Linked DNA regions of Homo sapiens. The protein of the gene in region 1 purifies or fractionates together with the protein of each later gene. This does not show direct contact. Each region holds a gene or a part of one and is shown in the gene's direction. Other genes may lie near its edges. The genes, in order: ARHGEF16 and ATP1A2.

Region 1 (10,060 bases):
GGAACGGACAGGCTGGGCAGGGGGCCCTGAGACTGGCCAGCGACCACAGATTCCACCTGCTTGGACCGGCCAGGCGGGGGCCCCTGAGACTGCCCAGAGACCATGGATTCCGCCTGCTCGCCTCTGCTGCACGCCTCCTCCTGGCAAGTCCCTCATGCCCCATAACTATATGTGTTGGGGATACCAGGTGGGGTATTTAGTGGTAAAGAGAAAAGAGAGAGTTCTGGGCCCCAGGGCTCAGCCATGGGAGGTCCTTTCCAGCCCACCCTGAGGAGAAGCAGCAGGAAGTCGCCCAAAAAGTGGCACAGATGGGCCCAGAACCTCTATGGGGCTGCCCTGGCCCAGCCTCTGCTCATTTTGAGCCAAGTCCCCTTGCAAGTTGGTTCTTGGCACGGAACACCAGGGCCTCTCTGGGAAGACACAGAATCAAGGTACTAGGAGACCAGGGCAGAGCACGTGCCGAGGCAGGCATTTGCTCTTCAGTGTGGAATCTGAGCCCGACTGTGGGGACACGAACAGGAAACTGTCCCTGCCCCGCAAGGGCTCACAGACATGGGGAGACAGGACAGCCAGCCAGCCAGCCTGCGGCTCCCTCTGCCCTGTGCATGCCCTGTGCTAAGCCCCCACTCAGCAAGTCAGGGCTGCCTTTGCTGGGGAGCAGATCTGCCACTGGCCCACGTGGCTGCTGCAGGAAATCTGACCTCTCTCTGTGGCACTGCAGCCGGGACAGCATGGCCAGCTGCTGAAAGGAGTCTGCCCTCTCAGCCCCTCCCCTTCACTGGCTCCACCAGGAGCCGACCAGCATCTCAGTGAGGAAATGGAAAGAGGCCACTGTAGAAACCAGCCGGCCTGCAGGACAGGCTTCAGGATATGGACCTGGCATGGGGCTGGGGGTCCCATTGGGCCCTCCCGGTCAGACACCTGTGCTCAGGGTGTGTGCACTTGGACCTCCCGCCATCATAAGGCCTGTCTCCTCAATAGAAGCAGAAACAATCAACCACCAGCAGCAGATGTTTGAGGAAAGCCCTGTGCCTGAGAGACAGAGGCCAGCAGAGGCGGAGACAGGAGGAAGTATGTGGCAGGGGCGCAGCTCCAGCAGCCAGCGACAGAAAGAAAGAAACTCGCTCCAAAGAAAATGTAATCCTTCCTCTCTAAGACAATAGAAGATGTTACACCCATAAAGCAAGAGCAGGATGCCAGGAATGAAGAGCAGAGGGCTCTTTGAGGATAATGAAAATGATAAGACCAGGGGCCAATAAGAAGTCCAAGTAGAGAAAACCTCACACAGAGAACAAAGTAGGGGAGGAAAGGTAAGGAATTAGGAGAAAACACCAGAGCTTAATACTCATTAGTGGGTATTCCAAAAAGAGAAAACAGAGTGGAAGAAATAATATGAAAATCTGCGCAGCCCTAGACAAGAGTGACCGCCTGGCAGGGTTCCACCCAGTGCCTGGCTCAGTGGACTAACATGGACCCTACGGGGGCACATCAGCACGACAATCAGAGCTCCCAGGCTGGCTCAGTGAACGAACACGGACCCTACCGAGGCACATCAGCAAGACAGCCAGAGCTCCCAGGCTCCAGCAGGTGCGCCAGACCCTCAGTGGGGCCAGGGAGAACCACACACCGGTTGTGATCCGAGAAAGAGATCGGGACATTGGGGCCCTTCCCCAGCAACTCTGACAACAAGGGAAGGGCGCTGCCCGACTCTGGGAGAAAACCATCTACAGTGGGAATGCTCATCTCCTCACCAGTCAGGGGAGAGGAAGAAACAAGACATTTTCAGGCAGTCCAAAAGATGGCTCCCATGTGGCTTCCTGGGACAGTGCCTGGGGATGTCCTTCAGGGCAATGAGGGCCGGGAGCAGGTGAGAGGGGCCCCGGAAGCAGCAGAGGAGGTCCTGGGATCCGCCCAGGGTGAGGCCCAGAGCACTGGGCCCTCTGGAGAGGGAGGACGGGGGGTGTCTGGGAAAAACACTGAGCTGGCCTGCCAGACATATAGAATATATTCTCAAGAAGCACATGGCAGAGACGCCAGAACACTCAGGGAAAAATTAACTGGGGAAACCAGGCTGGTCAAATGAGAGAAAATCATTAACAGGACGTGGACAAGGCCCTGCCCTGGGGCTCAGCGCCTTCTGCCGGCACAGGCATCGTGTGATGGGGCCAGCCGTGATGGAGTCCTCGTCCAACAGGCAGGGAGGGGGTAGGAATGCCCATAGGTGGGGGTCACTGAGAGCAGGCTGTGCCTTTTTCTGGGAAAAGCTGAGGAGCCCAGAGCAGTGGCCTCCGGGGATCAGGGCAGTGTGGAAGAGGGGACGCTGGGTTTTCATGCTAAGTCTTTGGTGCTCGTTGACTTTTGAAACGGTGTCTGTGTCTTCATAGTTCTTTAGAAAAACTGAAAAACAGAAGGCAACGGGTGCCTGCCAGGGCCACAGCTCCCGAGAGCCGGCTCCTGGGGGGCTCTGGACTGCCCACACCCCTCAGGCTCTCTGTTAGGCCTGTGGGTGCGGCTGCCTCGCTGGGAGCGGAGGTCACACCCAGCAATGGCTCAGGCTCTGGCTCGCCTGACAGGTTCCCGTTTGGGCGCCTTCTGGCAGTGGAGCAGACTTTGATCTCTCCTGGGACAGCTGCTGCCAGCCAGGGCCAGGACACCGTCTCAGAGGACGTGGTCAGGGACAGTCAGGCCTGGGCAGTCTGGCCCCATTAGGAAGGAGGAAGGCCTCTATGAGAGTCAGAAGGTTGAGACAGTGCAGGCTGGGGTCTCTGTATTTGGGGGCTGTGGGGTCTTGGGGACATTTGTTTGGTGGGAGATGGGGCACAGTGATGTTGTGGGCATGTCAACCCACATCAAATGCCCCCCAGGTAAAGTCATCACATTTAGAATAAAAGGACCGCAGGGCCGTAGACCGCCTACGCTGGCCACCCACTGGAGTGTGCTCTGCTTGGCGTGTAGACAGAAGCCTAAAAGAAATGGATTTCTCGGCCGGGCCTGGGTAAAACGCAGACACCCTACTGTGAGCGGGTGATCCTGGGATGGTGCAGACCAGCGTCACTCTGGTCAGTGTCATGGACACCAGCCCCGGGGGAGGCCTGTTGTGTCTGCCGCTGTCCTTGACCAGTGATTTGGAATGTCCTGAGGAATGTACCCTCCCGGCCAGCGTGGGGGCCGTCCCTCCCTGGGGCCTGGGAGGCTCAGCCGCACGTGCCTTCCTGGGATGGTTTTAGCAGAGAATTTGTGTCCTGGGAGAGTTTGGTGGCTCCCGGGGCTGAGCAGGGACAGAGGGGTGTCCCAGGTGCCCTGTGGACACTCCAAAGGTGCTAATCCAGGTCAGTTGTGTGGCTGACTGTAGGCAACCTCCCTGCAGGAAGTGACTTTGGGCGAGTGACTCAGCCTTGTTTTCCCATCAGAAAAATCAGTTTCCACCCGCAAGAGACTCCGGTCATTTTCATGTGTGTGACGTTCTGGGTGTATAGGAGGCATACTGAGTGGTGGTGGTTATTGTTTTTATCTTTATTTTTTAAAAGGGAAAGAATGAAAGCAGCGAGTTTTCTCCATGTCGTTACCTTTTGAACCTACGAAGCTCCCTGAGCATAGGGAGCATGAGCTTGTCTGTGATTCGGCAAGGCCTTGGTCACTGCGGCGCAGACGCAGGCCTCACACCGGCCAGGCCTGTTACACGCTTTGCACGCTTTACACTTCCCACCGTACCTTCAGGAGGTGGGCCTTGCTCTTATCATGCCCATTTTGCAGATTTTGAAACTGAGGCACGGAGAGGCAGCGTCACTTGCTCATTGACCACATGCCTGGGTCAGGGCTGCTCCCTGACACGTGTGGGGAGCCCCTGAGCAGCAGAGGGGAAAGCTGGGAGGCCTGAGAGACCAGACCCTCGGAATCCATTGCTCAGTGGCCTGAGGGTTGCAAGTGCCCAGGGGGGTTGCAAGCAGCCCGGGGCGTGAAAGCTCACTGTGGGCCTGACCGCTGTGGCCGAGCAATGCGCCGTCACTCAGGAGGTGATGTGTAGCCACAACAGCCCCGCAAAGTGCCTGGAAACAGACCTCTGGGCCCGGCTCCTGGAGGCCGTGTCGGCTGGGGGCTCTGCACATCTCGGTCACACGGGGTCCAGGCCATTGAGGCTCTGCCTGGCCACGCGTGCCTATAGTCATGGCAGCCAGGGAAGACGCAGAGGCAGGTCGAGAGCTGGCTCTCCACATTCCTACCTGGCAGGCACGTATGTCCCAAAGCCAGTCTCAGGACTGTGCCATTCCCAAGGGGCAGAAGGGCAGCCCTGCCTCGGGTCTGGAAGGAGGAAAGTGAGAAATGGGAAGCAGTAGTGTCAGGGGCAGGGTGCCAGCCCCGGACCATGAAGGGAACAGTGGGGTAGAGATGGGCTCGGGGGCACGCGCTGCCAGGAGGGGCGGGCAGGAGTGTGGCGGGGGCGGGGCAGCCCACGGGGTGTGGGGATCGGGCTACAGAGATGTCTACAGGGCAGCTCCCGCTCTCTGCTGGGGGGTGTACGTGGGACTGTGGGCTGCCACCCCTGCCACCACCACACCTGCCCAGTGGCCAGGTGTCATACTGGACTCTCGGGCTGGTGACTGGTGGGGCTCCTGAGACCAGAATTGTCAGCTTTATGCCCAGTTCAGAAACGTGGAAAAATGCAAGCGTGTTGCCTGGTGTGTGGAAAGGTTCCATGGACAGTCCGCGACAGTCATATCACTGTGTGGCTAAGAGAGGGGAATCACACAGGCCTGGGCTCGGGCCGGGAGCATGTGGGCAAATGCACCTGCCCTCCCCCCAACCCAGCAGAGCCTGGCTCAGGTGCCTGGAAGACCCCAATGAGGCAGAGGCTGTGGTCACTGCCGCTGTGGCTGATGCCGGCCTCAGGAAGCCCCCCAGTGCAACGCCATGACCCTTGCGTTCACCACGAGGAAGTGGTTCCAGGAGGCTGCATGGCTGCCAGGTGTGAGCCAGGATTCCAGGCCAGGTCTTCAGGGCTCCAGGGCCATGCACCTGAGCTGCCCCACCTGCCTCCAGGCTCAGGAATGTGTCCTCAGTGCGTGCTGCCCATCAGAGGAAGCAGTGTGGCCTCCCAACCTCCAAGGTCCAGCCTACCCCCATAGGCTGTGCCCACCTGGTCCCTTGGAGCTCGGAGAACCAGCGCCTGCCCAGTCCCATCCTGTGTCCAGCCTCCGGCCTCAGACATGGCTGGCTCCCAGTGGTCAGGACTGGCTGTGCCACTGATCCACTGTGCTCCTGGCTGCGTCGCTGTCCTTGCCTGCTGTGTCCTGGGAGCTGTACTGGAGCCCCGGCCAGACATATGCAAAGGGGTAGGGGGGTGGACACCCGCGGGGGCAGGGGAGAGCAGCCTCACGAGACCTCACTTCTGCCCTTCCCCCAGGACCCCACAGCCGCCCAGCATGGCCCAGCGGCACTCAGACAGCTCCTTGGAGGAGAAGCTCCTGGGACACCGCTTCCACTCGGAGCTCCGGCTCGATGCCGGGGGGAACCCAGCCTCCGGGCTCCCAATGGTCCGTGGCTCCCCGCGTGTTAGAGACGATGCCGCCTTCCAGCCCCAGGTCCCGGCACCCCCACAGCCTCGGCCCCCGGGGCACGAGGAGCCATGGCCCATCGTCCTGAGCACAGAGAGCCCGGCGGCCCTCAAGCTGGGCACCCAACAGCTGATCCCTAAGAGCCTGGCTGTGGCCAGCAAGGCAAAGACCCCAGCCCGCCACCAGAGCTTCGGGGCGGCTGTACTTAGCAGGGAGGCCGCCCGGCGGGACCCTAAGCTCCTCCCAGCCCCCAGCTTCTCCCTGGATGACATGGACGTGGACAAGGACCCCGGGGGCATGCTGAGGCGGAACCTGCGGAACCAATCCTACCGGGCGGCCATGAAGGGCCTGGGGAAGCCAGGTGGCCAGGGAGATGCCATCCAGCTAAGCCCTAAGCTCCAGGCTCTGGCTGAGGAACCCAGCCAGCCTCATACTCGGAGCCCGGCCAAAAACAAGGTAGGGGCCTGCTCGTGTGGACCGTGGGGAGGGGGCTGCTAGGCAGAGGGGCGGCCTGGCCGTCTCCACCACCGTCATCTTCTGCATCATGGCAGCTGCCGTTAGTAAGCACCTGCTGCATGAGGGCTCTCGACTGGTTTATTCCAGTTCAGCCCAGTCTGTGAGTGTGAAGATCCCACCTTACAGATGAGGCAGCAGAGGCTCGGAAAGGTCGAGGGTTCTACCGAGGCCCCCAGACTCTGGTGTCCCCGCTCCCAGCCTTGGTGGAGGGCAGATCCCTGGAAGGGCCCAGTCCCTGTTTCCGAGCTCTGGACAGGAGCCGGCCTGCCTGGATGATAGGGTTCAGGGTGACCTGGCTGCAGTGACTGGCCTGGGCTCCATCTGCCCCGGCAGCTCCAGACAGGGACTCAGGCGGGAGGGACTGAAGCGGGGCAGCTGTGCGGTGGCCTGGGGCTTAGGAGAAGTCTGCACATTCCCTCTGTACACAGAGCCCTGCTTCCCTGCCTGCTGGTGGTGGCTCTAGGTCTGGGGCATGGTGGCGGCAGACCCTTTGCTGGGCAGGGTGTAGCCTGACTGCATGTGTCACTAGGGCCCAGGGGACAGAGCGTCCAGCTGGGGCTCCTGGGCCCAGTGTCCCTCATCCTCGGAGTCACCATCCCCTGCGGCTGGGGGCCAGGCCTTCATTTCAGGCAGCCCTGGAGCTGGAAGCCACGTTCAGGGAGAGTTGCGTGGTACCTGGACACCCACCCAGCCAGGACTGCGACTCTGGCCACCCTGCTTGGTCTCTTTAGCTGGTGGGTCTGGGCTCAGGCAGGGCTGGGGTAGGGGAGGCGAGCTGCCCTGGAACCGCCCATCAGGAGGCCCTGGCAGCCCGAGCACCCTCAAGAATGCAGAGCAGATGCAGGGCTGGCCCCAGGGGCGTCCTTCTTGTTGGGCGCCTTGCTCAGACGTGTTGGAAAACAGGCCCCAAGCATATGGGCTGCCTCAGTGAAGGACGAGGGCGGGGGCAGGTGCTGTGTGACCCAGATGAGTTCCTGAACCTTCCTGAGCCTTGGCTTCCCCATGTGGAAGCAAAGATCACAGCCGCCCTCTGGGCATCCTCTGGGCAGTGTCCACGGAAGGTGTGTGCCAGAGCGTCTTCTTCACTGGTTGCCGTCCCAGCTGCCTCCTCAGGCCCAGCTCCTGCCCAGACTGGGAGTGGCAGTGCCAGCCTCAGGAGACGCCAAGACCACCTGTCAGAATGTCCCATGGGCGTCCACTGCAGGCCGATGGTGGCTGAGGTGGGGTCCCCCATGTCCCCAGCACCAGCCACTGTCCTCGGTCACAGCTCTCTCTTGTGCCTACCTGAGACGCCCAGGACTCAGAAATGCCTCAGCACCTCTGCCGCAGGCCCCTGCACCCCAGCAGCTGGAAGGGCCCCAGCACTCTCTACACCCACCAGGCCCAGGCCCATGGGGCTCCGTTCATTCATTCACTGTTTATTTCATGCAGTCAGCAGACACTTCTGGGCACCTGCCACATGCTTGGTGCTGGGGTTCCAAAGTGAGCCCACGGGCATGGGCCTGGTTCTCAGAGGGCCTCCAGCGCAGGGAGAATGCCGAGGGCTGGGCTGAGGGCAGCTCGGGGGTGCTGGGAGCACAGAGGAGGGGGCTCCCCATGGCCTCGGGTCAGGGTAGGGTCCCGGAGGAAGGAGGGTTAGCGCAGAGGCAGACAGGAGGAGAGGACGGAGTCGGGGTGGGGGAGGCAACAGCTCCAGCCAGACCTGGAGGCCGAAGGGGGGCTGGGGGAGTCCTTGAGGTGGGGTGCGGGGCACGGGGCTGAGGGTGCCAGGCCAGGTACAGCTGGGAGCACCACACACTCCCAACCAGTAAGGGGAGTTTACAGGCCCCAACTCGTTCCGAGAAATCAGCCCCTTTCCTTCCGGGAACCAGCATACCTGTGGCGTCAGGAAAGTGTGGTGTCCCAGCCGAGGAGGGTGGGCTCCGAGTCGGGCACCTGAGCGTGGGGGCTTCCCAGGAGCCCAGCCCTCCCGTCACTTCTGCCATCCCGGCCTCCTGCTGGGGCCCCCAGACCCATGCTTGGGGCTGGACACTGGCCAATCCTTGCTCGTCTGTCCCACCAGGTCCTAGTCCCCAGGGGCCTGTGTCCTGCCCCACTGTCCCTTCACAGCCCTCTCCCAACCTCACCTGCCCTGCCACGGGCCTGCTCGAAACTCTTCTGAGCGTCCCCTCACGATGAGTTCAACCCTTCCTCCTCCTCCAAGCAGCCCTCAGTCACGTGTCCTGCCTGCTCTGAGCCCTCCTCCCACCTCTCTTGGCCTCTGCTTGGCGGCCGTGAGGCCCTGTGGAGCTGACATCTATTGGGCACAGCTTCGCATGTGGAGCCGAGAGGTCTCTGGGGTCCCAGGGCAGAATCGCCGTGGGCAACACCTGCCCCGGCTGACAGCTGCGGTTTCTGTGTCTCTCTTTTGTGCAGAAGACGCTGGGGAGGAAACGTGGGCACAAGGGTTCCTTCAAGGACGGTGAGTGTGGCTTCGGGAGGCACCGCGGGCTGGGCTCCAGTTGAAACTGGTCTCACTGGGGCACCCTGGGGTTCGGGTGGGCCTCAGTTTGGTGTCTCGGGGTCACCAAAGCTGCTTGACAGGGTCCTTCCAGAGGCTGAGGTCCCAGTGGCTGGTCTGTTCATGTAGCCCTGATGAGTCTAGAAAGGTCTAGAAAGTTCCCTTGGACTCTATTCTGTGTGTTCTGAAGGGCAGGGTACAGACAGAGCCCCCAGTCTTGCCCTGAACACCCCATGTGTGTGCTGGGCCCAGCCTACAGTGGCCGTGTTGGGGGACCAAGGCCAGATCAGAGGGCACCGGCCCCACACCGCGGGCTCTGCCCGGACTCTTCGAGGCTGAAGGGGAGCCATGTGTTGGGGCCTCCAGCATGGGTGGCGGTGGTGCACACTCAGCCTGCTCGGGGGAGATGAGAACATCCCACAGGGAGGTTGACATAGGGAGGTGCCTGCTACCTGGGTCCAAATGCCCGGGGGTGTAAAGAGATTAGAGGCAATGAAGCCCGGGGAGGGCTAAGGCCTCGAGTGCCCAGCTCCAGGCCTGAGGCTCCAAGACACAATGGCCCCTTCCAGCCCCCAGAAGCTTTGTGGACAGGCATGGGCCCAGGAGGGGGTACCCAGGTCTCCTCTACGGAAATCCCTGGGAAGTGTCCCCAGGAGGCAGCAGCGATGCCCCACGTCTCAGGGTAAGGCTGGTTGGGGGCTGCTGTGAGGGTTTGGAGGCACCCTGAGCCGGGACCAGCCCATTTCAGGTGGGACTTGTGGCATAGGAGAGGTCTTGGGACTGGTGCCCAGCCTGGGGCAGTCCCCTCCCAAAGCCTCCCTCTCCCACACAGCCGTGAGAGCCTGTGGGCCTAGAGGACTCAGCTGGCGGGTTGCAGGGAGGCGCAGCCTTTTGCAATCCCCCAGGGCCACAGGTTACCCTCCTTCTCTCTCTAGACCCCCAGCTCTACCAGGAGATCCAGGAGCGGGGCCTGAACACCAGCCAGGAGTCTGATGACGACATCCTCGATGAGTCCTCCAGCCCCGAGGGAACCCAGAAGGTGGACGCCACCATTGTGGTCAAGAGCTACCGGCCCGCCCAGGTCACCTGGAGCCAGCTCCCAGAGGTAGCGCCGGAGGGTGGGTGAGGCTGCCCCACAGAGGCAGGGAGAAGCCACAGTCCCCCTGCTGTTCCTTCCCCAAGCCCAGGCGGCTGGTCCCCAGCAGCAGCCCAGTCCTCCCAGGGAGGGTGGGCAGCCTTCCCAGAAGCCCCTCGGCTGTGGGTGGCAGACCTGGGGGTCTCCCTCCTGTGCCCTCAGAGTCACCCTGCCCATGCAGGGCCCTGCCGTCGTGCGTGCGAGGGCCAGCCCTGCTCAGACTACCCTTCAGGGAGCTGCGGGCGCCAGGAGTCCCTTCCCAGGGCCCCCGCCCCAGGAGAGGGCTGAATGATCTGCGTAGGGAGACAGCTGGGATGGGAGGGGCCGGGACTTGGAGCTGGGGCCAGGGCCAAGACA
Region 2 (16,041 bases), about 160 Mb from region 1:
TCTCCTTTCTCCCCTACCCTTATTTTAGTTAACTTTGCACCAACGTCCTCACCACCCCCACCATCTCCAACGGCTTCCTTCCTTACTCTGATGTCCAATCAGCTGCCAAATACTGAAATTCTACCTCCCAAACATCTTTTTCATCCATCCCTGTCTCCTCTCTGTCTTGCTCCAGACCTTCACCACCTATAGCCCCCATCAGTCTCTCCCTTCCAGCCCAACATCCCGTCCACGTACAGGCACACACCCTGCCATCAAATGAGCCTTCCTAGAACGCAATTTCAATGAGATTACTCCCCTGCTGAAAAACTTTAAGTGGCTCCATATTGTTTATAGCGATATTTCTCAAACTTGCTTGGTGGTAGGAATACAGGTTCCCACTCTCCACGCCCACCCTCATGAATCAGAATCTTGAAGAAATGTACCTGTTCTTTTATAGTTTTAACAAGCACCCAGGTGATTCTTATCATCAGAGCCTTTTTAGGAAACACTAGCAATTAGAGTGGCAATTACTCTGGCATTCAAGGCCCTCCATGAAATGGCTCCAACATCTATTTCCAGTAGTACCGCCCATATTCCTTCCTTGTGCAGAGTGCTTCTGCTGTCTGTGCCTGTGCTCACATTGTTCCTTCTCCTTTATCTCTCTGAGTCAGATCCTACCTATCTGTCCAGGCCCAACTAGAATGCCACCTCTTCCATGAAGACCTTTTTGATTCTTCCAACTGAGAACCATCTCCCCCTTCTCTGGGCTCCCACCACCCTCTAAATGCTATGGTGAGCAACCAGCAGCCAGCAATACCTGGCTCAACACAGATGCACAAGAGTTGGCACTTTTTCTTCCCCTTTATCTTCTGGAGCACTCCTCACTGTCACCACTGCATCCAGACAGTTCTGGTCATTTACTCCTGGGGACAAGAACCCAAAGGAGAAGCTTCAGTGGGTCCTTACAGCATGGAAGTTAAATGTGCAGGCTCTGGAAACAAACTAACCAGGTTTGAACCGCAGCCCCCCTACTTGGGTAAGCTGAGGATCTATGTGCCTCAGTTTTCCCATCTGTAAAATAGAGTTGTGAGGACTAAGTTAAGTACTACATGCTGTCTTCATTAGTTCTGGAGACTGGGAAGTCCAAGATCCAGGTGCTGGCAGATCCAGTATCTGGTGAGGGGTCCCTTCCTGGTTTGCAGATAGCCACCTTCTTGCTGTGTACCCCACATGATGGCCAGCAGAGAGAAGAAGAAAGCTCTCTCATGCCTCCTCTTAAAAGAGCACTAATCCCACCCTCATGACCTAATTATCTCCCAAGTGCCCCACCTCCTAATACCATCACATCAGAGGTTCAATCTGTAAATTCTGGGGAGACACAAACATGCAATCTACAATAAGTGCTCACTAACCGTTAGCTATGATGAGCTACAGATCTTAGGGACAATATAGTTCAGTGGTTCTCAAATCTGCCTGTTGATTCATCTGGGGAGTTAAAAAAAATACCGATGCGGCTGGGCGCAGTGGCTCACACCTGTAAGCCCGGCACTTTGGGAGGCCAAAGTGCGTGGATCACGAGGTCAGGAGTTCGAGACCAGCCTGGCCAACGTGGTGAAACCCCGTCTTTACTAAAAATACAAAAATTAGCCAGGTGTGGTGGTGCATGCCTGTTATCCCAGCTACTCAGGAGGCTGAGGCAGGAGAATCGCCTGAACCTGGGAGGTGGAAGTTGCAGTGAGCCGAGATTGTGCCATTGCACTGCAGCCTGGGCGACAGAGTGAGACTCAGTCTCGAAAAACAAAACAAAACACTGATGCCTAAGCCCCACCTTAGATCAATTAAAAACATGGTACCTGAAGATGAGGCCTGGGCATGGGATGTTAACATGAAGCTAAGGGTGAGAATCCTTAGCTAGTCCAACCCTCCACCCACTACTTTATTGACGAGAGGTAAAGGACTTATTCAAGTGCGCACAGCTGGTTAACTGTAGAGCAAGTCCCACACTGAAAGCCTCTGCCCTCCCTCTAGCCTAATCCAGAGTGATTTCCAATACGATTTCCAATACGCCATTGCGCAGCCTTTGCTCCCGCGTCATTGGGTTGGGAGAATCATCTAGGCAGGAGGCAGAGCCAGGCCCACTCAACCTCACTCAGCAAAAGTAGAGGTAAAGAAGTGGGGAAAGTTTGAGGAAATGGAAGTGGGGAGTCCCTAAGGACTATGAGCTTGGGAGGACAAGGTCAAGAATGGATGGGGGGATTTTGTGACTAAATGGCATGAGATTCTGAGAGAAAAGACAATGAGGGTGGGGATCTTGTTTGCCTTGATTGTAACTGTCTTTCTAGTACCTTGCACAGAATATAGCATAAAGTACGTGCTCAACAAATGTTTGTTGAATGTCTAAATGATGCAATAACATCAAAAAGCACATGTTCTGTTTATTAAGTCACCCAGAGGGCACTCACATTCCTCAAGGGGGCAGTGGTGAGAACATCCAGAGGGGAGCACAAAAGTAAAAGAATCTTGGACTTTCAGAGACACTGAGGCACAGAGGAGGCCAAGCTCCCTGAAATTCCGAGGAGAGGCTGCTATGTGGGAGGGAGGCAGTGGCCCTGTGTGCCAGATGTTTGCAGGGCATCCTGAACTCTCTGAGCATACAGAATGCCACAGGGGACAGGCAGATAAACAGAGCTGTATCCTGGGCCAAGTGGAGGGGGCCTGGTAAGGGAAGAGGGAGGTGGGAAGAAGGAGGCTGGGGGCCAAGCCAGCTGCCTCTTGATAGGGGGAGCGGGGAGGCGGGGTGCTCTGGGCCAGTGGTTGGTTCAGATCTCTGGCCAAAGCAAACCTGCCTCAGGGGGCTGGGGGACCTCTCCCTCCCTGCCCGGATGGAATCAAAGGCTAACAGGAACCCTGGAGGGTCCAGCTGTGACCCTTGCTCCTCACACTCAGCAGGGCCCATTAACCCCGTCCTCCCCATATCCTCAACACACTTTTCCCAGCCCAAAGAATCTTTGCAAACAGACTCCCCTGGTATTTGCTGATCAGATACCAGCCAAGAGATGTCAGGTTTTCCCAGTCTCACCACCAGCCCTGCCTTCCTCCCCCAAAGATACCCAGACCCTGTCCCACCTCTCACAGCGGTGCTCTGTAAGAACCCAGGGTAGCCTTTGCTCAAACCGGAGCCCTTCCTTTTTTCCATGCCAAGAGTTAAAGGGATTCGATTCATTTCTATGAGTCATAATAATAAACAAAATAGGAGCACCTGCCTCCATGCTCACAAACAAGACAGGACAACCTACCCTCTTGGATCTCCTTCTGAACCCAGGTCTCCAACTGATGGTTCTCACACAGGTACAACCTGCAGGTAACTCCTGCTGTTTACCTGAGCTGAGCTGTGCGCTGAGGCAGAAATAGCCTGGAATTTGGGGATCATCAGAACTGGAGAGGGACCTCAGAGATTTTCTTTTTTTTTTCTTTTTTTGAGACAGAGTCTCGCTCTGTCACCCAGGCTGGAGTGCAGTGGCGCAACCTCAGCTCACTGCAACCTGCACCTCCCAGGATCAAGCCATTCTCCTGCCTCAGCCTCCTGAGTAGCTGGGACTACAGGTGTCTGCCACCACGCCCAGCTAATTTTGTGTGCATGTGTATTTTTAGTAGAGATGGAGTTTCACGCATTAGCCAGGATGGTCTCAATCTCCTGACCTCGTGCCTCCCAAAGTGCTGGAATTACTCACAGATTTTCTCATCCCGTTCCTTGTCATTCAGATGAAGATGCCAAGGTCAGAGTAGAGAAGCCTCTTGTCCAACATCACACAGGTGGTTAGTGGCTTCAGCAGGACTAGCCTCAGCTGACTTGACTTTCAGGCAAGAGTCCATTGCATTGGACCACGGTGGGGACTGTGAGAGGACAGGAGGGAAAGCAGAGGCACAGAATAGCCCAGGCCTTCATGCTCCTGGGAAGGGTTGACATGGGTTCCCTGGGCTACACCATGGGTCCTTTCCTTTTTCTCCCTTGGGACTTCCACGTGAAGAAGGCACAGGCAGAACACAACATGGAGCTATCTGAATCCAGAGAGAAGTAAGAACGAAAGGAGGTGGGAATGCAGCACAGGCAGAGGCTGGGGAAAATGCTTCTGGGTGCTTTTACATCCTATTTTCTAAATTCTATACAGTGTGGTTTTAACAATAAAGAGGATAATAAAAATACTCTGGGGAGAGATTAAAATGACAGAACCAGCTGGGTGTGGTGGCGCATGCCAATGGATGCACAACTCTGGAGGCTGAGGCAGGATGACGGCTTGAGCCCAGGAGGTCGAGGCTGCAGTTGATCATGCCGCTGTACTCCAGCCTGGGTGACAGAGTGAGAATCTGTCCTTTTTTTTTAAGGGAGAGAGAAGAAGAATTGTTTTTTTTTGTCTGTTTATTGTTTTTTGTTTGTTGTTGTTGTTGTTGTTGTTGTTTTTGAGACAGGGTCTCACTTCGATTGCCCAGGCTGGAGTACAGTGGTGCAATCTTGGCTCACTGCAGCCTCTCAACCTCCCTGGGCTCAGGTGATTCTCCCACTTCAGCCTTATGAGTAGCTAAGACTACAGGTGCATGCCACCACGCTCAGCTAATTTTTTCGTATTTTTATTAGAGACAGGTTTCACCATGTTGCCCAGGCTGGTCTTGAACTCATGGACTCAGGTGATCTACCCACCTCAGCCTCCCAAAGTGCTGGGAAAACAGGCATGAGCCACCGCGCCCAGCCAGCAGAGATTTTTAGAATCTACTTTGAGTAGACTGAAAAGAAAGACCATGTTGAAGGAATGGTTTAACAGATAAAGAAAAAAAATAAGATAAAAATAAAAGAAAGACCAAAAAGAAAACGGAGGAGCAGATGTTAAAGGAGAGATGGGGAGAAAATTCAACACCATCCTTGTAGTCCAGTGAGGAAACTGACACAGCAGCAGGACTTGGACAGCCACTCTGGGGCTCTGAGCCCAACCTTTTTATTTATTTATTTATTTATTTATTTATTTATTTATTTATTTATTTTTGAGACGGAGTCTCGCTCTGTCGCCAGGCTGGAGTGCACTGGCACGATCTCGGCTCACTACAACCTCCGACTCCCTGGTTCAAGCGATTCTTCTGCCTCAGCCCCCCGAGTAGCTGGGATTACAGGCATGTGCCACCACTCCCAGCTAATTTTTATATTTTTAGTAGAGACGGGGTTTCACCATGTTGGCCAGGATGGTCTCAAACTCCTGACTTCATGATCCGCCCACCTCGGCCTCCTAAAGTGCTGGGATTACAGGCATAAGCCACCCCACCTGGCTGATCCCAACCTTTTAACAGGTCACTATAACCTGAGGGAGTGGGAGGACAGAGGGCTGGAGAGGCAGGGAGAGTGAGAAGTCATCTTTCTTGGACACTTGTCATGGCCAGTCCAGGCCTTCCCGGCTCCCCTCATCTCATCCCCCAAGGTGGGCTCCCTTTGGAAGCAGAAAAACTCCACCCACACTCCCAGAAGACCTCAGAAGCCTGATAGCAGTGACAAGACCACAGGCCCTAAAGAAAAAAAGAAAGGAGAGTTAGAGGGAATGGAAGAAGGAGAAGAAGGAGAGATGCCCAGAGGGGGGTTGGCAGCCGAGAGGAGGACCAGAGGAGCAGGGCTGGAGAGCTGGGCCCAAATCAGGACTGGGGGAGAGAAGTGGGGTGCCGGGGCGGGAGGAGGGACGATGGGGGTGATAGAGCCTCCCAGCTCTTCCTTCCCTCCCACTCTCCCTCCTCCTCTCTCTCTTTCATGATCTTGAAACAACCTTCAAGTCTGGGCTGGAGGCCCCAGGAGGCCAGTCACTTAGGAAACAAAACTGTTTCTTGGAGACCTTGAAAGCCCATCTGCAGCTGAGCAGCGTCCCCACCCCCTCCCTGTGCACACACACATTCTCCCATGGACTCTCACGTACACCCACACCCGGCTTCACATGAGCTCCCCAATGGCCCACATGCACGCACACACGGACTCCACACTTGATCTTAGCCAAAAGGCCGAGAAGCGATGCGCACTCACGGACTCACACGCACCTCTGTACTCATGCTTGCATACAGACAACCGATTCATAGCAGATTGGCCACACATCCGAATGAGTGTTGTCCTCTCCCCTGAGGAGCTCCTCCTTTGGAATGTGGTTTGGTACCACCACTCCGTCTCATACCTCACACAGGACCCAACGCTCAGGTCCTCCCAGTCATTAACTAGCACACATCTGTACACAGGCACATGCACACTCCTGTCTCTCTCCAACTGTCTTGGTCTCTCTCTCTCTCTCTCTCTCTCTCTGTCACACACACACACACACACACACACACACACACACACACACACTTCTTACCAACCAAATATTTGATTCAGGACCACTCCATCCCCACTTTGCCCTTGGTGGATCCCCCTCCTGATCTGTGACTTTCTCAGCCCACTCCCCAGCCCAGGCATCTTGGCCTTCCATCCTCCTGCTTTCAAGTCTTTCTTTCTCTCTCCTTTGCTCCTCTTACTCCAAGGGCCTTGATCCAAACTGGTACTGCTGACTGTGTCTGAAGAAACAGTAGCCCAACCCAGGCACTCCAGATCAAACGATCAGGTGTCTACACCTGTTAATATCCTGGAGGCTGAGGTTCATGGTGGACAAGAAGGAGGTAGACCACTCCAGAGCCTCAGCTCTCACTGGGCAAGGAGGGTGGTCAGTGATGCACGGTGGAAGTATAGGCCCTGGGTGTCCTGCCCACTCTTTGATTTCTCTGAGCCCTAAATATGTGAGCAGCAGCGCCCCTCGGGCTGTGCTCTCGCCCAAATGCAGGGCATGGCAGGGAGCCCCAGCAGGCTGTAGGGGCAGAGGAAGGGCACATCCTTTCCGGTATTGAGTTTGGCCACAGGGACCAGAGCCAGGGCCTTTGGAAGGACTGGGCAGTACTGGGAGGTGCCAGCAGGGGTGAGGGGTGGGATGAAAACTGTTAGAGTGCTTGAGGTTTGCACACCTTCAGATTCGGGGACTGACGTTTTCTCTCCTATCTCAGGTTGTGTTCTGGAGAGGGCTGGGCAGAAGATTACCCAGGAATTCCAACCCAGGAACCTACGGAACAGGCGCTTCCTAAACCCCAATTTATCATGTTGTTCCCACAGCCCCCAGGCAAGCCTGCCCCAATGTTGATCTCCCTAGCTGCCTCGGGGCCACTCTGGAGTGACTTTGCTTTAGACAGTCTCTCCTGGTGTCTAACCACAGGCTTTCCCGCTACTCCCCTCTCACTCTCTCCTTAACACACAGGGGCTGAACTGGTATCTGTTCCCTTCATTGTTTCCTCCCTCTGCCCATTCTCTCCCAAGACCAAATCTGAGCTCGGAGAGGGGGGCCATGAGAAGGCCCTGTTGGCCCCATCCTACCCACCCTTTCTGACTGTAACCCAGAGAGGGAAGGAGCGTGGAAGTGAGATGTGACCTACCAGGTCCCTGTAATGGAAAATCTCAACTGCAGGCCCGGAGGGGGCCAGTTATTTAGGGAATTCAGATGTTAGCCTTGTGCCCTGAGAGTGGATTTGCTAGAGGAGAGGCTGATAATCCCTCTGCAGGGAGTTCCCTCTGGGGCCAGAGATGGACCCAGCCCAGCCAGCAGGCACCTTAGGCCTCTGGCCAAAGCCCCCCTTCCCTCCCTCCCTTCCTCTCTGCTTTCTTTGCACTCAGGACACTTAGACCTGCCCCACTCCGCTGGCTTCCCCTCACTCCATCTCTGTGCCCAGAGAAACAGGGGTACTCCAGGGGAATCCTGTCCTCTGACTGTTCCCAGTAGAAGGCGGGAGCAGAATTTTTTCTTTTCTCTCTGCCCCTTCTGGGTTCCCCTTCCTCTCTGTGCCCCTCATCCTTTGGATTACTCATCAAATGAGCAGCAACAACACCCCTAGACCAGCTGGTCCTGTCCTGGGTCATCTCGTTGTCCCCAGTTTCTAGCTGGTATAAGGTTAAAGATACCCTTTCCAGCCCCAGGCAAAGCCTTAGGCATTTCTGGGATTGCTCCTGACTCTGATGGGCATCCTCACTCCTCAGACATTTCCAATCTCCCCCACTTCACTGCAGAGAGGCCTGTTCTCCAGCCTCAGTCCTGCATGCTGCAGCTTTGCTTCCCCTTCCCCACTGGAAGAAGGAAACAGTCGCTCTCCTTTCCCGTTCACATGTCTGATATTTGCTATGATATTGACCTTCACACACATCTTAGAGGTTCTGTATTTTCCTCTCTTTTGACTTCTCCCTATCACTACTCTACTCAGGCATAGATTCAGTCTAGAGCTCTTCAACAGCAATGAAACGGTAAACGAGGGGTAAACAAAACCCAGAGATGTCATCAGGTGCCTGCTAGGAGTCCCACCCGTTCCCCTCTAGCCCTGGCCTGCCCCTCCCTACCAGAGTCTTGATTCTCCTTCAAAACTTTGGAGAGGTTACATCTGGCAGGGTTTGGGGACACCCTCTTGCCTCCATCTCCAAACTTCCCGCTGCCTCCCGAGCCACCTTTGACTCCTCCTGGGCCCCCCTTCCAGGTGCCTCAAGTGCAGAGGTCAGCCTTCGGTTCAAATTCTATTTCTGGGCTTCAGTGTCCCTGCAACCTCTATAATAGAAGGAACAGAGTGGTCTATGTTTCTTTCTTTCTCTGGGAGATTGGATGTAGACTCGGGAGACCTGAGTTCTGGCTCTGTCTTATCAATTCAAATTGTTTAATCTCTCTGAGCCTCAGTTTACCCACTTGGAAAAGAAGAGTTAGGCCACATGGTCTCTGTCATCCTGGGATTCTGAGTCAACTGCTCCCCTTCAGCCAGATCCAAGGGGGCATATCCCCCCAACCTGGGACCCAGGCCCCCTTCCCTTGCAGCCTCTCTCAGTTGTGAGTGCCACAGGCCAGAGGGGGTTGAGAGGAGCCAAGGGGGGGCATGCCGTGGGACAAACGGGCTGTCTAGGGCCAGTGGCTAAAGGGGCGGGAGGGGAGGAGTCCTCAGGGATCCTGTTTCAACAAACGTTTCTTTCGGAGGAGGGGAAGGCGGGGGAGAGGGGGAGAAGGACCTATTTAAAGCTACCCTGTTGCTTTGGCTTTCTCTGTCTGCCAGGGTCTCCGACTGTCCCAGACGGGCTGGTGTGGGCTTGGGATCCTCCTGGTGACCTCTCCCGCTAAGGTCCCTCAGCCACTCTGCCCCAAGATGGGCCGTGGGGTGAGTATCCCTAAAGAGCAGGGGTCGCAGTCTAGAGGGTGAGGGAGGCTGCTGAGGAAGGATGAAGTGGGAATGGGATGTGGAAGGAGCGGGAGAGAGGAGCTGAGTGGGATACTTGGAACTTGAAACTAACAGTCTCCAAACTACCAATGTGTGTACAGATCCCACGGCGGTCACATACCCTAGTGCTCTCCTCTCCTCTGCACGCCCCAGCCCCCTGCCCACAGTTAGACCCACAGCCCACCACACATGCCCCCTCCATCTCTCCCTCCACCCCACTCCCACATCTCTAGTCCTTCCCTGCAGCAGTCCCTCCTCTCACTGCATCTCCCGGCCTCCCAGCTGAAAGGATGTTTGGCACTGTGAGTCCTCCTGTCTTTGCCACCTCCTGAAAATATCCATTCCTCTGGGAGTCCTAGCCTGAGAGGCTGGGGGTCCATTTTGAGGTTAGAGAGGGGCAGTAGAGCATCCGGCTCCCAGAGTCACCAAGTAGTTCCGGACACCAGCTCCAGGGGCCCTGAGTGCCAAGGACAGCTGGGCGGGGTGTGGGGAGGAAGAATGATGACCCAGCCCCCACCCCAGCACCCCTCCGGATGTCCCGAGCAGCATTGTCCGTGGGTTCCAAGCCATGGGCTTTGAGGACTTTCCCAGAGGCTGGTGACAGGTGACCCCCCCCCCAGTCCACCCGTCCATGGCATTCTGCAGCAATGGCTACACCAAGAGGAAGATTAACAACAATGGGGCGGGCAGGGAGAGGGCTTTGAATTCTTGGAAATGAAATTCCCATATGGAGAAGAGTGGCCCAATCCTTTTACATGCTGTGCCTGGCTGCTTTCCTTTTGTGGAATACTGGCAAAAGAGGACACAGAGGGAAAGGGCATGCTGCGGAACAGGAGGGTATGAGGAAGACTGTGCCTAGGGGGAGCCGTGGGTGTTTCTGGGCCCAGGAGGAGTCAGGCAAGGACATGTTATTGCACCTAGTTGAGCAGCTGGGAAATCCTGAGCCTGGACACCAGGGTTCCTGAGCTAGGGTTGGAGCCATAAATAGAATTGGAGTGCATGCATGTATCTGTGTGTCTGTGTCTGTGTGTGTGTGAGTGTGTGTCCTTGACCACGTGTTCTCCATAGGCGGGGAGTCCTGCAGTTACTCATGGATGAGTACCTGTGTTTGTGTCTCAGCAGGCAAATTTGTAAATGTACAAGCCTTCAAGCCTGCACAAGCATAAATGTCACTGTGTGGGGGTGCTTGAGAGTCTGTGAGCCTGCCCTTAGGAGCTGTGAGGTATGGGCTTCACGGAGGAAGAGGTCATAGCTGCAGGAAGATATACTGTCTTGGGACCTTCAGCTGCATCTTGACATCTCTGGCTCCCCATGGAAAGGGCATCCCTAGCTGAGATGCAGGACCTCTGAGAAGAGGCAGGGGTTAAAGGATCAGATAAGCCCTCCATTTCCCCCATCCAAGTGAAGAGAGAAGGAGGGGAGGTAGCCCCCTACCCTGCTCCATCTTAGAGCAAGGTAGACCCAGCTCAGGAGGTCTTGCTTGGGAAGTGATGAGACCTTGACTTTTCCAGTCTGTCTTTTTCCCCTAGCACCCCCAAACTCCCCTTAATCACCATCCTAAGTTGCTGTGGGTGATGCAATAGCAAGATGAGGAGCAGATCTGGGCTGTTTAAACTAAGAGGCTGGGTGAGGTGGGGGTATTTAGGGCCTGGAGCTTAGAGTTCAACCTACCAACGACCCCTGAAGAGGGAAGGCATCTGACACCCACAACCTGTTCTAGGGATGATTTTTCCTCCAATCCCTTCTCCCCTGCATCTCCACTGCAGAGGCAGGCTTCACTGTCCCCCCATTACCCAGTGGCTGTGAAGGGCAGCGTGGGAGTTGGGGGAAGGGACGACACTGGTGGGAGGGAGCCCAGCCTGCTCCAGCTACCACGGAGAGGCTGAGATGGGGGGAGCGTTGGCGGATTCCCAGCTGCCCCCACTCTGTCCCAGCCTCTGGCTTTCTCAAAAAGGACTCTCTGTTCTCCTTCAGCATTCAAGACCCAGAGAGGGGGACTTGTGGTTGGGGGAGGGAGGAGTGGAGGGAGGTTGGGGGGGTCCTTGCTTCCTCTCTTTCTTTCTTGCCTGGGCAGCCGCTGGCCCCAAATCTCTGCAGGCTCCTGGCTGCAGAGCCTGAGATCTTTGCCAGGACAGGAGGAGGGGGAAGGGGCAGTGTGTCTCAAGCTCTAAGCCTGCTGGAGAGCAGGGCGGGAGCTTGGGAAAAGGAGGCACTGCGTGGAGCTGCTTAGCTCAGCCACAATCCAGCATGCCAAAGTGCATGGACCAGCAAGTTTTTAAAAAGCATGCATTTTATTCCAATTTTTATGAAATTTATTTCACATCTGAATATACAGAAATTCCTCTGCACCCTGCTCTTCTGCCCACAGACCCAGCCCTGCTCCTCTGTGTATGCCTGGGCCCCCTTCTGTCCCTGAAGTTCCTGAGGGTCACACTGAAGCTCAGCCAGCCTGATCTCTTGCCTCTGTTCCCTTGATTGCATTTCTTCCTTTTCTCAGCTCTGTCCCACCACAGACAGTTAGTGAATGTAAAGCATTTCAATCCACTCAATTAAATGAATCCTCTTAGGTCACCTGAGAAAGGCAGAGGCAGAACCACTCACAAGCCTTTCCCCACCCCTTCCATTGGGCTGCTCGGTCTCCCCAAGAAGATCTGCCTTTAGGAGGCCAAAATTATACCAGATTCATAGATGCTTCAGGTGGAGACAAACCCACGATTTTACTGGTCACCTTTTCTGAGAAGAGCACTTCTGAGCAACACAGCCTCCAAAAGCTCATATCTTTTTAAATCATTGGTATCTTGGGAACAACAGTGTTGACTTCTCCTTGCATCCCCCACCCCTACCCTTGCTTCTGATTGTACTGGTCAGACTTCTACCTCTCAAGATGCTGAATTGGCGACCTCTTATGAACAAGGCAGCTGCCATACTTCTGGGATTGCTCCTGACTCTGATAAGTAAAAAAGGCATTACCCTGGAGCACAAAAGTCTTAGGGCAGTGAAGCTATTCCATATGATACCACAATGGCGGATACACGTCAGTATACATTTGCCCAAACCCATAGAATGTACACCAAGAGTGAACTCAAACTTAAACTATGGGCTTTGGACGATAAAGATGTATCAATGCAGGTTCATGATTGCAGCAAATGTAACACTCTGATGCAGGGTGTTGATAGTGGGTGAGGCTGTGCATGTGTGGGGGCAGGAGATATATGAGAACTTTCTCTACTTCCCACTCAATTTTGCTGTGAACCAGAAAATTGCTCCAAAAAAAGTATATTTTTTAAAATGCAAACAAAACCCCCAAAACTGCATTATCCTGCAAAAAAAAAAAAAAAAAAAAAAAAAAAGCAAACACCTTGGCTGTGGACCCTACCCAGGTATCCACTCTTTATGGGAAACAAAAGTTAACATCATAGTGTGGGAAAACTAATTCCTGAAAGCCTAGTGCAGACTTTGCAGAATCCAGTGGAGAAATAGGCACCAGGTGGAAACTGAGCAGCCCCTCTATGACAAGGACTCTATTTCCTGAGGGAAGTGGGAGGAGAGAAGACTGGGGCAGAAGAGGAAGTAAGAAGGTACCTTTTTGGGAACTTTTCATGGCTACCCAGGCCTTCCTCAGCCTCTATCCTATTCTATCACCCCAAGAGGGCCTCCTCTTAGAAGGAAAGATTTCCCACCCTGTCCCCAAGAAGTTCCCTGTGAGACCCTGGAAGGCTGGTAGTGGTGAGCCCACAGGCCCTGGAGTGGAAGGGAAATCAGGAGCCTCATAAGACTACAATTAAAATGTCCATCTGCTCAGGCGCAGTGGCTCACACCTATAATCCCAGCATTCTGGGAGGCCAAGGTGGGAGGATCACTTGAGCCCAGGCAATATAGTGAGACCTTATATCTAAAAAAAAAAAAAAAAAAGAAAGAAAGAAAGAAAATTGTTTTAAATTAGCTGAGCGTGGTGGTGCATGCTTGTGGCCCCAGCTACTTGAGAGGCTGAGGTGGGAGTATTGCTTGAGCCCTAGAAGCGGAGGGTGCAGTGAGCTGAAATTGCACACTGCATTCCATCCTGGGTGACAGAGTGAGACCCTGTCTCAAGAAAAAAAAAAAGGCCATCTGATTCACCAGATGACCCAGGAATGTCTAGACTTAAAAACTATATAAAATGTAGTTTTAGATTTACTCTCAGATACAATTTCTTATGTTTTGGGACAAATGGGGCTCAGTTCCCATGTTACCCAATTGTGCTTTGGGGGTCCAGTCCTGTGAGTTGCCTCCCGTCTAGTAACGGGCAGGCCTGCCCAGCAGGATGGAGAGGGCTCCCAGCACACCCCATGTCTCCACTTCCTGGACATGCCCTGACTCTCCAGCTACTGCCTCCTCTCAGTCCATCAGGCCTGCTCTTTCCATCCCTACCATTCCACCACCAGACCTGGCTCTCCTCTGGACACGTTCCTGCCTAATCCCCTGGCTCCCCAAAGACTCTTGCTCCCCCAAGTTCCTGAGTATTTCTACCCCTCTCTAAGTAAAATTGCCATGGTGTTGGGCTAAGACATTCCTACAGAGTGATTCTACTCCCTCAACAACCCCCCACAAAACCCTGTCCACTCCCTTCCAGAATTTTCCCAAATAGTGTAGGATACAGGTTTTCAAAATTTTTGTTTTGTTTTGTATTTAGCAGCAGGGTCCTTTCAACAAACAAAATCTTAGCAGAAGCCCAAGCATTAAACCACTCAAGTGGTGCTTTTCAGTCCTGAGCCCCTCACCCTTCTCTGAAACTCACATGGGAGCCCCTGGTTCTGCCAATAGTCTACAAACTGAGGGCCTAGGGTCCCTCACCCTCCATCCCCCCTATCTCCCCCAAGGCAGCCGCTGCTTTTGAACACACACCCCCACTGCCTGGGCTCCCTGGCTGAGTGGTGGGAATGGAGGCCCCAGCCCCTCTCTTCCCTGACTCTCTGGCTCTCCCTTCCTCCCTCAGGCTGGCCGTGAGTACTCACCTGCCGCCACCACGGCAGAGAATGGGGGCGGCAAGAAGAAACAGAAGGAGAAGGAACTGGATGAGCTGAAGAAGGAGGTGGCAATGGTGAGGGAACTGCTGGGCCATGGAGGAGGGGCCCCATGCTGGGAGAGCTGTCCCTGCAGCCCATTGCACTCAGAGAAACTCCGTGTCCCCCATGCTGCTCAACTCACCCCTGTGCCCTGCAGTACCCTCATATGCATCTTAGATACCTCCTCCCCAAAGTAACTCACCCTCCCTTCCCCAGGATGACCACAAGCTGTCCTTGGATGAGCTGGGCCGCAAATACCAAGTGGACCTGTCCAAGGTGAGTGGAGGGGCTTCTAGGGAAGGAACAAAAGAGGCAAGAAAACCATGCAGCATCAAGGTGGCAGGAGCCTTAAAACTGTAATCCAGCCTTCTTTACAGATGAGGAAACTGAGGCCCAGAAACAAGGACTGGCCCAAGGACATGCAGCTAGTTGGTGGCACAGCCAGAACTAGAATTTGGATCCCCTGCATCCTAGCCCAAAGCTCTCTCCCTGTATACCCTAGAAGCCAGGACTCCCTATGACCCAGGCCCCAGAGGGCCTCCAGGCAGGGCCCTTCCCTATACCCCAAGCAACTTCAGTTGCACACAGCCTTCCACAGAGCTGACAGCTGATGCACATGGGCTGACAGCCCATTCCTGTGGTTACAGTGATTTGCTGGGCCCCTGCTACATATGTGACATTGTGATAGATGCGTTACATACATTTCTCTAATCTTTACAACAACCCTTTGAGATAGGTATTGCAGACCTGTTTATTAAACAAAGGAGACTCAGAGAGGGAGAGTAACTTCCCAAGGTCACATGAACAGTAACTGGTACAGTCAATTGCTAAGCCCTTCAATTAAAAATTTGTTTAAAAATCATTAATCAAAAAATGCTGGGTGTGGTGGCTCATGCCTATAATTTTACCACTTTGGGAGGCCAAGGCAGGCAGATCACTTAAGGTCAGCGGTTTGAGAGCAGCCTGGGCAACATGGCAAAACCCCATCTCCACTAAAAATACAAAAATTAGCTTGGCACAGTGATGGGCACCTGTAATCCCACCTACTCGAGAGGCTGAAGCAGGAGAATGGCTTGAACCCAGGAGGCGGAGGTTTCAGTGAGCCGAGATCATACCACTGTACTCCAGACTGGGCGATAGAGTGAGACTCCATCTTGAAACAAGCAAACAAACAGACAAATATTTAGTGGGTGTATATCTCCTTTATGGGCCTTCCCTGACTGCTCTTTCTAAAATTCTATGCCCCTATTCCTTTACCTTACTTTATTTTCCTTAGTAACACTTTTCTATCTGGCACTAATATGTATTTGTTTATTGTGTGTCACCTCTCCAGATCATAAGCTCCTCAAGGGCAGGGACTTTGTTGGTCTTGTCCATCTCTGCATCCGCAGAGTGACAATTGTGCCTGGCACTGGATATACATTTATTAAATGAATGAATGAATGAAAAAAAAAAAAAAAGAAACGGTCCCTGCTTTAAAGGAGCTCAAAGTCTAGTAGCAGAAAAAATGCAATCCTAGGATTCCAATGCAATATGGTGAGTGCAGCTCTAGAATCAAGTATAGAACACCATGGGGAACCAGAAAGAAGCATCTGAACCAGCCTGGGGCTGAGGGAATAGGGCCAGGCAAGGCTTTCTGTGGAAAGTGACAGGTGATTGCCAAAGTTGTGTGACACTGACGGTCAATAATGTAGGACTTGAGCAGGGTGTGGAGGTGCCCACCTGTAGTCTCAGC

Evidence for each region.
Region 2: the proteins of ARHGEF16 (region 1) and ATP1A2 purify together in Homo sapiens (affinity purification with mass spectrometry; 2 studies listed by BioGRID and IntAct, with this or other methods). This does not show direct contact.

What each region holds. Positions count from the first base shown.
Region 1 is NC_000001.11:3,457,665-3,467,724, forward strand, and holds part of ARHGEF16 (rho guanine nucleotide exchange factor 16), read left to right. Parts: exon of another isoform or gene 1-1,835; coding exon of another isoform or gene 1,836-1,867; intron 1,868-5,401; coding exon of another isoform or gene 5,402-5,420; coding exon 5,421-6,008; intron 6,009-8,483; coding exon 8,484-8,529; intron 8,530-9,137; exon of another isoform or gene 9,138-9,250; intron 9,251-9,503; coding exon 9,504-9,673; exon of another isoform or gene 9,674-9,686; intron 9,687-10,060. UniProt on the Homo sapiens protein: Guanyl-nucleotide exchange factor of the RHOG GTPase stimulating the exchange of RHOG-associated GDP for GTP. May play a role in chemotactic cell migration by mediating the activation of RAC1 by EPHA2.
Region 2 is NC_000001.11:160,106,670-160,122,710, forward strand, and holds the start of ATP1A2 (sodium/potassium-transporting ATPase subunit alpha-2 precursor), read left to right. Parts: upstream 1-9,089; 5' UTR 9,090-9,192; coding exon 9,193-9,204; intron 9,205-14,236; coding exon 14,237-14,341; intron 14,342-14,522; coding exon 14,523-14,582; intron 14,583-16,041. UniProt on the Homo sapiens protein: This is the catalytic component of the active enzyme, which catalyzes the hydrolysis of ATP coupled with the exchange of sodium and potassium ions across the plasma membrane.